2 separate regions of the Homo sapiens genome follow, and region 1 is linked to region 2. The links come from fine-mapping of genetic effects on gene expression. A gene starts in region 2. The other region holds a variant in brackets. All regions are shown on one strand. Distances are between the middles of the regions.

The links.
Region 1: its variant is fine-mapped to the expression of NAA30 in whole blood (GTEx, PIP 0.97).

The regions. Positions count from the first base shown.
Region 1 is chr14:57,181,463-57,186,839 of GRCh38, forward strand. No RefSeq gene overlaps it. Among named protein-coding and RNA genes, the nearest start is that of EXOC5, 85 kb to the right of the region's middle. The variant A/G (reference allele first, on the strand shown) is at 3,171.
Region 2 is chr14:57,387,699-57,393,075 of GRCh38, forward strand. NAA30 (N-alpha-acetyltransferase 30, NatC catalytic subunit) reads left to right here and starts at 2,888. Exons shown (of 5, transcript NM_001011713.3): 1 at 2,888-3,007; 2 at 3,259-4,030. The coding sequence starts at 3,260. RefSeq lists an enhancer at 2,872-3,867 and silencers at 2,996-3,135, 3,266-3,415.

The sequences.
Region 1 (5,377 bases), 210 kb before region 2:
CTGGGATTACAGGCCTGAGCCACCATGCCTGGCCTAAAAAACAATTTATGACTCTAATCAAACCAGTCCTTTGTCACAGCCAACTATCTAGGTAAACAGGACCCACAGCTTCTTACTTCTTCTCTGGCATCCCAATCATCTTCCCACTCCTCAATGGATTCATTCGTGAACTACAGAATTCCAGACAATGCCTCATTTTACCCTCCTAATACTGTCTTCCTCTCCCTCTAATACCAACCAGGCTGAAAGTTTTGCCCCGGGATTCACTGGATTAAAAGAATCGAGGTAGACTCTAAGAAAAGACATAGTTTGCAAATTCAAGTAGTTTACAACTTTTTATCAGTATAGTAGACAGCAACCAATATATTTCAAATAAAGCTTAATTCCCCAAGGGGGTGACTATAATGAAGGTACCTGAGAGAACCCCCTGAAGGTCATCATCCCTACTTCTAAAGAACCAAAAGAAAACACAGGTGGCCACAGTTTCTAGATCAGTGCTTCTCAAACTTTAATAAGCATCAGCATCACCTGGACGGTTTGCTGAACACAGATAGCTGAGCCTTACCCTCATTGTTTGTAATTCAAGAGATCTGGGGTGGGGCCAGTGATTTATTTGCATTTCTAACACATTCTCTTGATGTTGGTGCTGATGTTGATGCTGATACTGCTTGGCCTGGGCATCATACTTTGAGAATCACTGCTGTTTCAGATCAACACTAGGAAAGCCTTGGAATGGGAAAATATAAACTCCTGTTTCCTCCTGAATTGTATTTACATGTCAGATTCCATCACGTAATATTGATGAACAACCGCAAATCCTAACAATAAAGCTCTTGCTTGAAGTTTGCTTTTGATTGATGCCTTGTAGACTCTCATATCCCCAGGGAGTTATATATCAAGAATGGGGTCCTTTAAGGGCTGAGAGATGAGTAGACTACAGCTAAGATGTTGATTCTAAGAGGAAACTCTGGTCCGACATCCTCAAAATCTACACAGCTCACTGTCTGATTATCACAAGCTAGAGTGACTTAATCTAGAACCCTACCTAAAGTGAGATCAACAAAACCCAGTAGCCCATACAAATCTGATGCCAGATTCTGGGGCAGAGCATCCAGTGGATGATGTTCCCAGAGGCTGGTGCCAATGACCCATGAGCTGTGACCTCAGGCAGGCTAGAGGATGATCTCAGTAATTCTGTTCTGAAATGCTGCATAGACCAGGAGCTGATGCCATAAAAATATCCCCAAATAGTCTAGCCTTTTTCATGTGCTTCTGAAGAACTTTAACAGTTCTTCCCCATGGGATGGGCCAATGAAGGGGGAGAAAAATCCCTTGCACAGCATGCTGTGGTTGACAGAGTAATTTTCATATGTGTTCTCATTCAATTCTTACAACTCTGTGAGTGGTAGTATTAGTATCATTCCCATTTTACAGATGAGGAAATGGAAATCCAATAAAGTTTGCCCAAGGTCAAAGAACCGAGATTCAAACCCAGGCCGCACAAGCTCGATGAATGATGCCACACTGCCTCTCAGAGGCCGAGGAACAGATGTACAACAGCAGCCCTGAGAAATGGTTCTGAACAAAAGTCAGGAGGGCAACCAATAAAACTCATTAAAATTCTTCATGCCAAGCAAAGTAACAAGACAACAGGGCAAGGGGCAAGCTGTTTGGCCAGCAAACGATAGAGAAGCAAACAAAAACAAGATATAACTGGAATGTTTTTTTTTTAAAAAAAAAAAAACAGACAGATGTTTACATAGTCATTTCACAATAACAGATTGAGACTTATTTCTCTGAGAGCACACTTAAAGGTTCTTACATAAACTATCCTGAGAGATCCTTAAGCAGAACACTCACCACTCTCCCAGAGGCATATTTTAATTCTCCATCTTGCTAATTTTTTTATTTTAGAGTTATCCAGGAAGAACAAGTGCTATAGGAACTAAAACTGCTTTAGTTGAAGGTGGTCAGCTTCCAGTGTTGGAAACTCAAAGAATAATTAAAAGAATTCTTATTGAGACAGATTTAAACATGTATTCATGGCTTGGAGCAGGGGGTCAGTCCTGTAATCCCAGCACTTTGGGAGGCTGAGGCAGGTGGACCACCTGAGGTCAGGAGTTTGAGACCAGCCTGGCCAACCTGGTGAAACCCCATCTCTACCAAAAATACAAAGATTAGCTGAGCATGGTGGTGGGTGCCTGTAATCCCAGCTATTCAGGAGGCTGAGGCAGGAGAATCACTTGAACCCAGGAGGCAGATGTTGCAGTGAGCCGAGATTGCACCATTGCACTCCAGCCTGGGCGACAGAATGAGACTCCCTCTCAAAAAAGAAAAAAAAATGTATTTATGAAGATGCACTTTTCTCATAAGCTGATTCTCCTCCTTGCTTCTTATCGCTATTATGTCCTGAGTCAGAGCCAGCCCTAGGCAAAACTGACAAATAAAAGTTTATTTTCAGCACTACCTCTCTTCCTAACCTCCACTTTCCCCATCTCCTATAAAAATCCCAGGTACTTCTTCCTACCTCCTTTTGGCTAAAGACTCAGTTTTCTTTCCTTCCCAATAAAAATCTGCCCTCCAGGAAGAATACGATGTTTTCCACACTCTAGACCAATGGATCCTAACTTTGGCTGCATATTAAAAATCACCTTAAAACAACAACAACAAAACAATGTCCAGGCTCCACCCTAAACTAGTTAAATCAGAATCTCTGACAGTGAAGCTCTAGCATCAGTATTTAAAAACAAACAAACAAAAACAACTCCTCTCCTCCAAGTGATTCTAACATGTAGCCAGGGTTGGAAATCACTATACATACATTCATGAGAAGGCTTATTATATTACTCTTTCCCAAAATATTTGTATTTTATATCATAACAAGCCTTAGTAGTGGGACATTTAGGCAGGCTACATGATCGACGAAGAAAAGAGGAAGAGTTAGAGAGAGAAGAGAAGACTCCTTTGTTGAAATTACTCCCTGCAGAGGTGGATGTCATCTTAATTAGTGAGCTTCATGGGTTCAGCAATGAGAAGGTCATTCAGACACCTGCATTTGGTTTAGAATCACTCTGTCTCATGGTTTCCCTTTCAGACACACCATCCTTTGACTGGTGTTCATGTTGGTGGCAAACAGATCCTTCAGTTATTTCTTTTTTCTCTCCATGATG[A/G]CAGGTTTTTTTCCTTCTTAGGTCTGACCAAATCCCTGTCTATAACTTTCAGCATTCAGCTAAGGGAGCAAAGTGCCCTGATTTATTTAGCAGAGTAAATGCTTTGGAGATGCTTCCCAGGTCATTCTTTACAAAAGATGACCTGGGATGGCTGTCCTTTTCTTGACAAGCCTCATAGGATGGCAATTTGTTAGGATCACTGAGAAAGCAAGGTCTGGTTCTCAGTTTTGCAGGCTCTGAATCAGAGTTTTATTACTGCACCAGAGGGTGATCAGGCCCTCGTGAGCTGGCGCATACTAATCTACCACATAAATCATAACCCTGCCGTACTCAGTTTTACTGAGATCTTTGACTGTCAAATGGACTACTTCTCTTGGCCAGCCTAACACCTTAGCTTACAAAGTCAGGAGCTCTCTTTGTGAGAATAAGGATGGAGCAAAGGTACATATCAAAAAAGTGCCTCCACAAAATCTTCCAGAGGTCCCATCTAGAACTTCTAGGAAACCAGAGAATCCTACATTTTAGCTGTACTCACTGCACTCCCTTCTTCTTGCCTTTGAAACAGAGGTCTGCTTACTGAGAGTTAGGCTTCGAGAGTGGCAGAAAGAGCAATCCAAGAGGATACCTTCGTTGAAAGGAAATTGCCAAACAGAGTCAGTTATTCCATGTCTGATGCAGTCTCTTCAAACAGACCAGTGGTTCTTAAACTCTTCTGCACATTAGAATCACCTGGGAGCTTTCAAGAGTCCTGATACCTGGGCCACACCCCAAATCAATTGGATCAGAATCACCAGGGATGGGAGCCCGTGGCATCAATATCTTAGGGATGCTAAAAATACCACAGAAATGTGTTGCCCATGAACTCAGATTATGGTTTTTGCGGATTCGTTTTTAAACTACCACAGGTGATTCCAATAAAAAGCCAAATTTGTGAAACCACTGAATAGGTCTGTGCAAATGATTTGCATAGTCACAGTCAGATTCCATTCTCCCCCAGACAAGGCTGGAAATAAATCTTTACTGTCTTTTTCTATCTGCCATCCTAATTAGGGGGTTTCAAGGTAAGGAAGGTTTGTATTTATATTTATATGCCAGACACAGAAGAGGCCTGTATGTACTTTGTCTCCTTAGTTCTGGACACAGTCTTCTCATCCCGATTCATAGGACTGAGCTACTTTAAAGTACATGTGTCAACCACAACCCTCCAGTTCTCCTTAATCAGAAACTCTGAGATTGGATGCTGGGTATCTGAAGATTTTTTAAATTCCCCAAATGAGCTGATTCAAAACTAGGGCTAAGAATCTCTGAGCCAAGTAGATCACTGGCATTTGAGACATTTTGTGGCACTTGTCATAATATCATTCTTTATTCAAGGCCAGATTATAGGGTGGTTCAATCAGACAAATACCTGTGGCACTTATATATTAGAAATGCTCAAACAAACAAACAAACCAAAACAAAACAAAAACAAAAACCATGGAAATATATTGTCAGTGAACTCAGTTCTTTGTCTATGCATCCTAACACAAAGGACAAAATATAACATGGTTCCATTTCTACTAAAGTAGATCACCTTTCAGAAGAGATTAAAATGGAGAAGGGAAAAGAAAAGAAAACAGGCCGGGCGCGGTGGCTCACGCCTGTAATCCCAGCACTTTGGGAGGCCGAGGCGGGTGGATCACGAGGTCAGGAGACTGAGACCATCCTGGCTAACACGGTGAAACCCCGTCTCTACTAAAAATATCAAAAAATTAGCCGGGCGTGGTGGCGGGCGCCTGTAGTCCCAGCTACTCGGGAGGCTGAGGCAGGAGAATGGTGTGAACCCGGGAGGCGGAGCTTGCAGTGAGACGAGATCGCACCACTGCGCTCTAGCCTGGGCGACAGAGCAAGACTGCGTCTCAAAAAATAAAAATAAATAAATAAAAACAAAACAAAACAAAGCAAGACAAAACATCCTTGCCAGTATTGATCACTCCTCACTAAACAAATGTTGAACCATGATTTTCAACACACTTGGTGCTTGCATATCTCAATCCAGCCCTAATACCATGTCTTATTTTCAATGATGGTATTTGGATTGGTCATTCTGAGGGAGACCGTATGATAAAATAACAAAGCCAATAGCATTGCCATTTATTGAGCACTTGCTGTGCACCTGGTGGTAGGTGCTTACTGTAACTTCTTACTTACCATAGCTTCTTTCATAG
Region 2 (5,377 bases):
ATATTACAAAACAATGAAAATATCAACTAACCACACAGAAGAGTATCACTGCTACACTCACCTTGCTCTGAGCCCATTCTTTCCTATGAAGTATTGCTCATGGAGGTAGTTGTTTTTTCAGAGTCTCATAATAGTAAATATGTCTAAAGCATTAGAGTGAACTAATCCTATTTCTATGCCTAAAATAGTGCTATCATCCTATCAAGTAAACATGAATCAAATAGAAAAGATTTCATAAGTTATAAAGGCAATTTTTTTTAGAGATGTCATCTGATTTAGAAGGCCAACATTGTAATTTTAATACTGGGATATAAAGAAAAATCACTGGGGCTGAGACATTAGAATTACCCCACTAGTTATTGAGGAGGTCAGAATTTACTTTGTCATTATAAGCATTCTAGGTTACTGAATGAGAGACTGGTGTACTTCAGTCAAAAAGCTTAACAATTTCCCTTTTATGTGTTTGATATGTGAATACAAAGTGACTAACATTTACTCCCTGGCCTCAAGAAGGTCCTTACAACTCTTGACTTTCTGAAAACCACTTTGAGACAACATCTGGTCAGCTCCTCAGTGTGACAGAGCTCAATGCCAAGTTGCAACACAGAAAGAACAGGAAGGCCTGCTGCCATTCATTCACTACAGTGAAGGTACATGCTTTTTAGGAAGGGCTTACATTTAAAAGTAAATTACTGAGAGGTATTTTTCTAAGTAAAATTCACCCTTAAACATCTCTTATGGAATTATCTGGTGCCTCTTGGGCCAGTTTTTCCACCATGATTTGAACAGATCATTGTTTCATTGGCTGACTACCCAGGTTACACTTAGAAACTTTGAAAAACATGTATCTTTAAACAATGTATGCACATTTGGAAACATGGTTTTGTTTTGTGCTTTTTAAAAGACAGAAAAGGGATCACGCTGTACTTATACATCTCATTTATATCCCCCACACATCAAGGTGTTTAGGAGGTTTTCAATGTATCTGTAGCAAGTTATACATTCTGAAAATGGCCACAGCAATATTTCTGGTCCCATATGCTCTTTGAGAACCTTGCCTCTCTCCACCAAGAGTAGAGTCTATTTCCCCTCCTGTCAAAACTGGATATAATTTTGTGTCTGCCTAGATACAATGCAGCAGAACTGACACTACATAACTTGTTTTTTGTTTCTTTTTGATGAGAGGGAGTCTCCCTGTGTTGCCCAGGCTGGAGTGCAGTGGCGCAATCTCGGCTTACTGCAACCTCCGCCTCCCGGGTTCAAGTGATTCTCCTCAGCCTCCTGAGTAGCTGGGACTACAGGCATGAGCTACCACGCCCGGCTAATTTTTGTATTTTTCGGCAGAGATGAGGTTTCACTGTGTTGGCCAGGCTGGTCTCGAACTCCTGGCCTCAAGAGATCCTCCCGCCTGGGCCTCCCAAAATGCCAGGATTACAGGCGTGAGGCACCGCACCTGGCTAGAGACTACATGACTTCTAAGGCTAGGTTATAATGGGTAATATGCTTCTGATTGACTTTCTCGCACGATACTTGCCGTGGAACCCAGCCACCAGGCTGTGACAAAGCCCAAACCAATCAATGCTAAAAGACCACCGGGAGAGGTCTACATGGACTAGAACTGAGGCCTCCAGCCTTTATCCTGCATCAACCATCAGCGGTGAAAGTGAAGTTTTCAAATAATTCTACTCCTCAGCCTTAGAGTCTTCCAACTGAAGCTCTACGCATAATGGAGTAGAGAAAAGCCATCCCAGTTGTGCTCTGTCTGGATTTCAGAGGCACAGAATCTGCGAGCATAATAAATACTTTATACATAGAGTTTAGATTACGGCAAAAAGTTGCAAACGTGTTCCGTCATAGAATTATATATTGAAAACGTCCATCTGCGGCACACCAGACCAGCTCTATAAATCAGGTTTTTAACAAAACCGAATTTGTTCAGTGAGCGGGTGAGTTACACTACCTGTCTCAGCTCAGACCTGCCGGGAGTCAATTGTGGACTAGAGCAGAAGGCGCCCAGCCACAAGCTCAAGTTCTATCCCCTTTGCACTCGATAGGCAGATCCCCTGGGAGGATCAGGCCACCTGTTTACCAGTGCTTCCTAACCTATTTGTGTCACAAGTTTAGGAGTGTGCTTCTTAGCCCTGGTCACTCTCTTTCACCACCTCTCTCTAACCCTTCCCCAGGTGTGCTAGCAATTGCCCAACACCTGTCAGTCACTTTTGCCTCCAATTTTACTGGGTGCGAGGAGCAGAGTAAGGAGGGAGAGGAAGAGGGCTGACTCCCTTGCCTCAAAGTGGCAAGGGCCAGCTGAACTTAATTCACACTGCAAACCACCACGTTTCGACAGCCATCCCCATATTTTCACAGCTCAAATCTTCCTTTCTTTTTCGGTCGGCTTCTCTGATTTGCTCCATTTTTAATCGCTCCTCCCCCATCCTCCTTGCCCCTGGTCAGGGCAAACATTAAACGCTGTGCAGCTTTAAAAGGGCATTTTTAGGTGACTTGTAAACGGCTTGTTCCACAGGCCCCGAATTGGCGAGATTCGCTACAGCTCGGAGTGCGCGGTAGACTTTAAGCAGGGAGCGCCTGCCCGGTCCATCCCTCCCCGGCCCCGCGTGGCAAGCACCGCAGGTTGAGGCGCCCCCAAACCGAGGAAGAGGGTTTGGGAGCCTGTGACTCCAAAGCCCTCTGCAACTTCCCGGCCCCACAGCCCCACCCACTAGCACGCGGCCTTCCCCGCAGCCCGCAGGAGACACCTTTGTCCCCGCCCCTCCACAGGTCACCTCCCTCCACGCCCCTCTCTCTTGGCCCGGGCAGCCGGCAGGCAGGGAAGTGTCGTAAAGCCAGGCCCAGGAAACTTTACCCGGCCTAACAGCTGAGGCGCTTTACGGCGACGGCGGCTGAGTGAGAACCTTGGCGGCTGTGGAGGCTGCCGCGGCTGCGAAGGAGGCGGCGGCGGTGGCGGAGGAAGAGGAGTGGCGGCAGCGGCGGCGGGGACCCGTGCGGGGTGAGCCGTGAGGAGGGGCCGCGAGTGACAGGGCTGGCGGGTGGGCCCGGGCGGACGGGGACGGTGGCCGGCTGAGCAGCTGGGCGGCGCTGAAGAGCGGGGGGGTGGCGGGGAATTGGGGGGCAGCTCCGTGAGGGACGGTTTCTGCCTTTGTTCCCCCCACCTCGGCCGCCCCCCATCCGTCGCCCCCTGTTCTCCGCGCTCCTCGGCCGGGTTTCATGGCCTCCCCTCTCGGTCTGTGTCGCTTCTAGGATGGCGGAGGTACCGCCTGGGCCTAGCAGCCTCCTCCCACCACCAGCACCTCCGGCCCCGGCGGCGGTCGAGCCCCGCTGTCCCTTCCCGGCGGGGGCCGCCCTCGCCTGCTGCAGCGAGGACGAGGAGGACGACGAAGAGCACGAAGGCGGCGGCAGCAGGAGCCCGGCGGGCGGAGAGTCGGCGACGGTGGCGGCCAAGGGGCATCCGTGCCTCCGCTGCCCTCAGCCGCCGCAGGAGCAGCAGCAGCTCAACGGATTGATTAGCCCCGAACTGCGGCACCTCCGGGCGGCCGCCTCCCTCAAGAGCAAGGTCCTGAGCGTAGCAGAGGTGGCCGCGACCACAGCCACCCCTGACGGAGGCCCCAGAGCGACTGCAACAAAAGGAGCCGGGGTACACTCGGGCGAGAGGCCCCCTCACTCCCTCTCTAGTAATGCAAGAACTGCGGTCCCCAGCCCGGTGGAGGCAGCGGCGGCGAGCGATCCCGCGGCGGCCCGCAATGGACTGGCCGAGGGCACCGAGCAGGAGGAGGAGGAGGAAGACGAGCAGGTGCGGCTGCTGTCTTCGTCCCTGACCGCCGACTGCAGCTTAAGAAGCCCTTCGGGCAGGGAGGTTGAGCCTGGGGAGGATCGGACGATACGATATGTCCGATATGAATCCGAGCTACAAATGCCCGATATCATGAGACTGATCACCAAAGATCTGTCCGAACCCTACTCCATTTATACCTATAGATATTTTATCCACAACTGGCCACAGCTGTGCTTCTTGGTAAGTGGATAGAATAAAAAGAGGGTGAACCCAGCAGTGATCGAGACTGTGCGGGGCAGGGAGTGAGGGCCCAGAATGTGGCAGTGGATATCTCCTGCTGCGTATCATAGTACGTTATATGATGTCAAGTGCTGTACACATTCCTAGTTATTTAATGAAATTGTTTTGAAGGTAAGACTTCATGATTCGGGTTAACGTGATACTAGTGTAACTGCAGCAAGCCTGTATGGTGGCGTGTTTCACTGGGGTGGGGGTCTTGTGTCTTGTTTACATTAGATTATAATCGTGTTTAACCGTCTTTAATTACCCGCCCGCATCCTCAAACACTTTACAGTCATTTAATTTGAACATGGTTCTGTTCAGATACAGGCCTTATTAGTCTCTCGATTACAACCATAATCAGGGAAGAGTGTATGCATAAACATGTTGTGGTGAACATGGATGTCAGCAAACTTGGTGTGGTCATATTGGAGAATTAAATCTTACAAGCATTTTCGGTAATTATGGAGATGTTTCTCTTTACTTCAACTGGACAATTAACAGTTGTAGCCAGCCTGCTTTCTGGTACTCCATTCCAGAAAGCGCTACTAACACTTCTGGTGGCTGAAAGACTCCTGAAACTTGAACAAAATACCCTTTTGTGGAATGTAGAAAACTTGTGTGAAATTGTTACCGATCTGATTTTTTTTTTTTTAATTTAAGAAACTGGTTGTAGATGTGGCCAAACACTAGTAACACTGGCTTGTGTAGAGTATAATTGACAATAATATTACACGTAAGTGAAAGACTTTTGGACGGTTTTTAAAAATTAACATAGTATTGGCAGTACCAGTAATTTCTTCACAATAATATTGACCCATTTCAGTCTGTATGAACCCTTTAACTTAAACGTTGACTGCAGGTGTATGCTTTGTATCATGTGCTCACAAGCATATTGTTTCTGTTGAATTTTACTACAGAAAGATGACATCCTTTTAAGGAATATTTTTTAATATGTGAAGGGAAAAGCCACCATTACTTAATGTTTTAGCATTGGCTTAGTTTCACTTGGTAATTCCCTGCAAGATATTTTGACAATACTTATCTTTTTGATTCTCTAGCTTGGTGATAATTTGAAAATGTAACCTGGGTATTGTAGATAATGGTAGTTCTATTTTCTGTCTTAACTTGCTTAAACTTCAATTCAGTACATTTGTTAAAACTGTGGGTACTACTTTATATTCTTGAAAACTGCTCTTTCAGTATTCTAAGCATTGTATCAGAATAGTTCTAAGACATGTCTGTGTCAATGAATATGAGAAAATGATTTATAGCACTATTATAAATGTCATATCAAATGCCACTGTA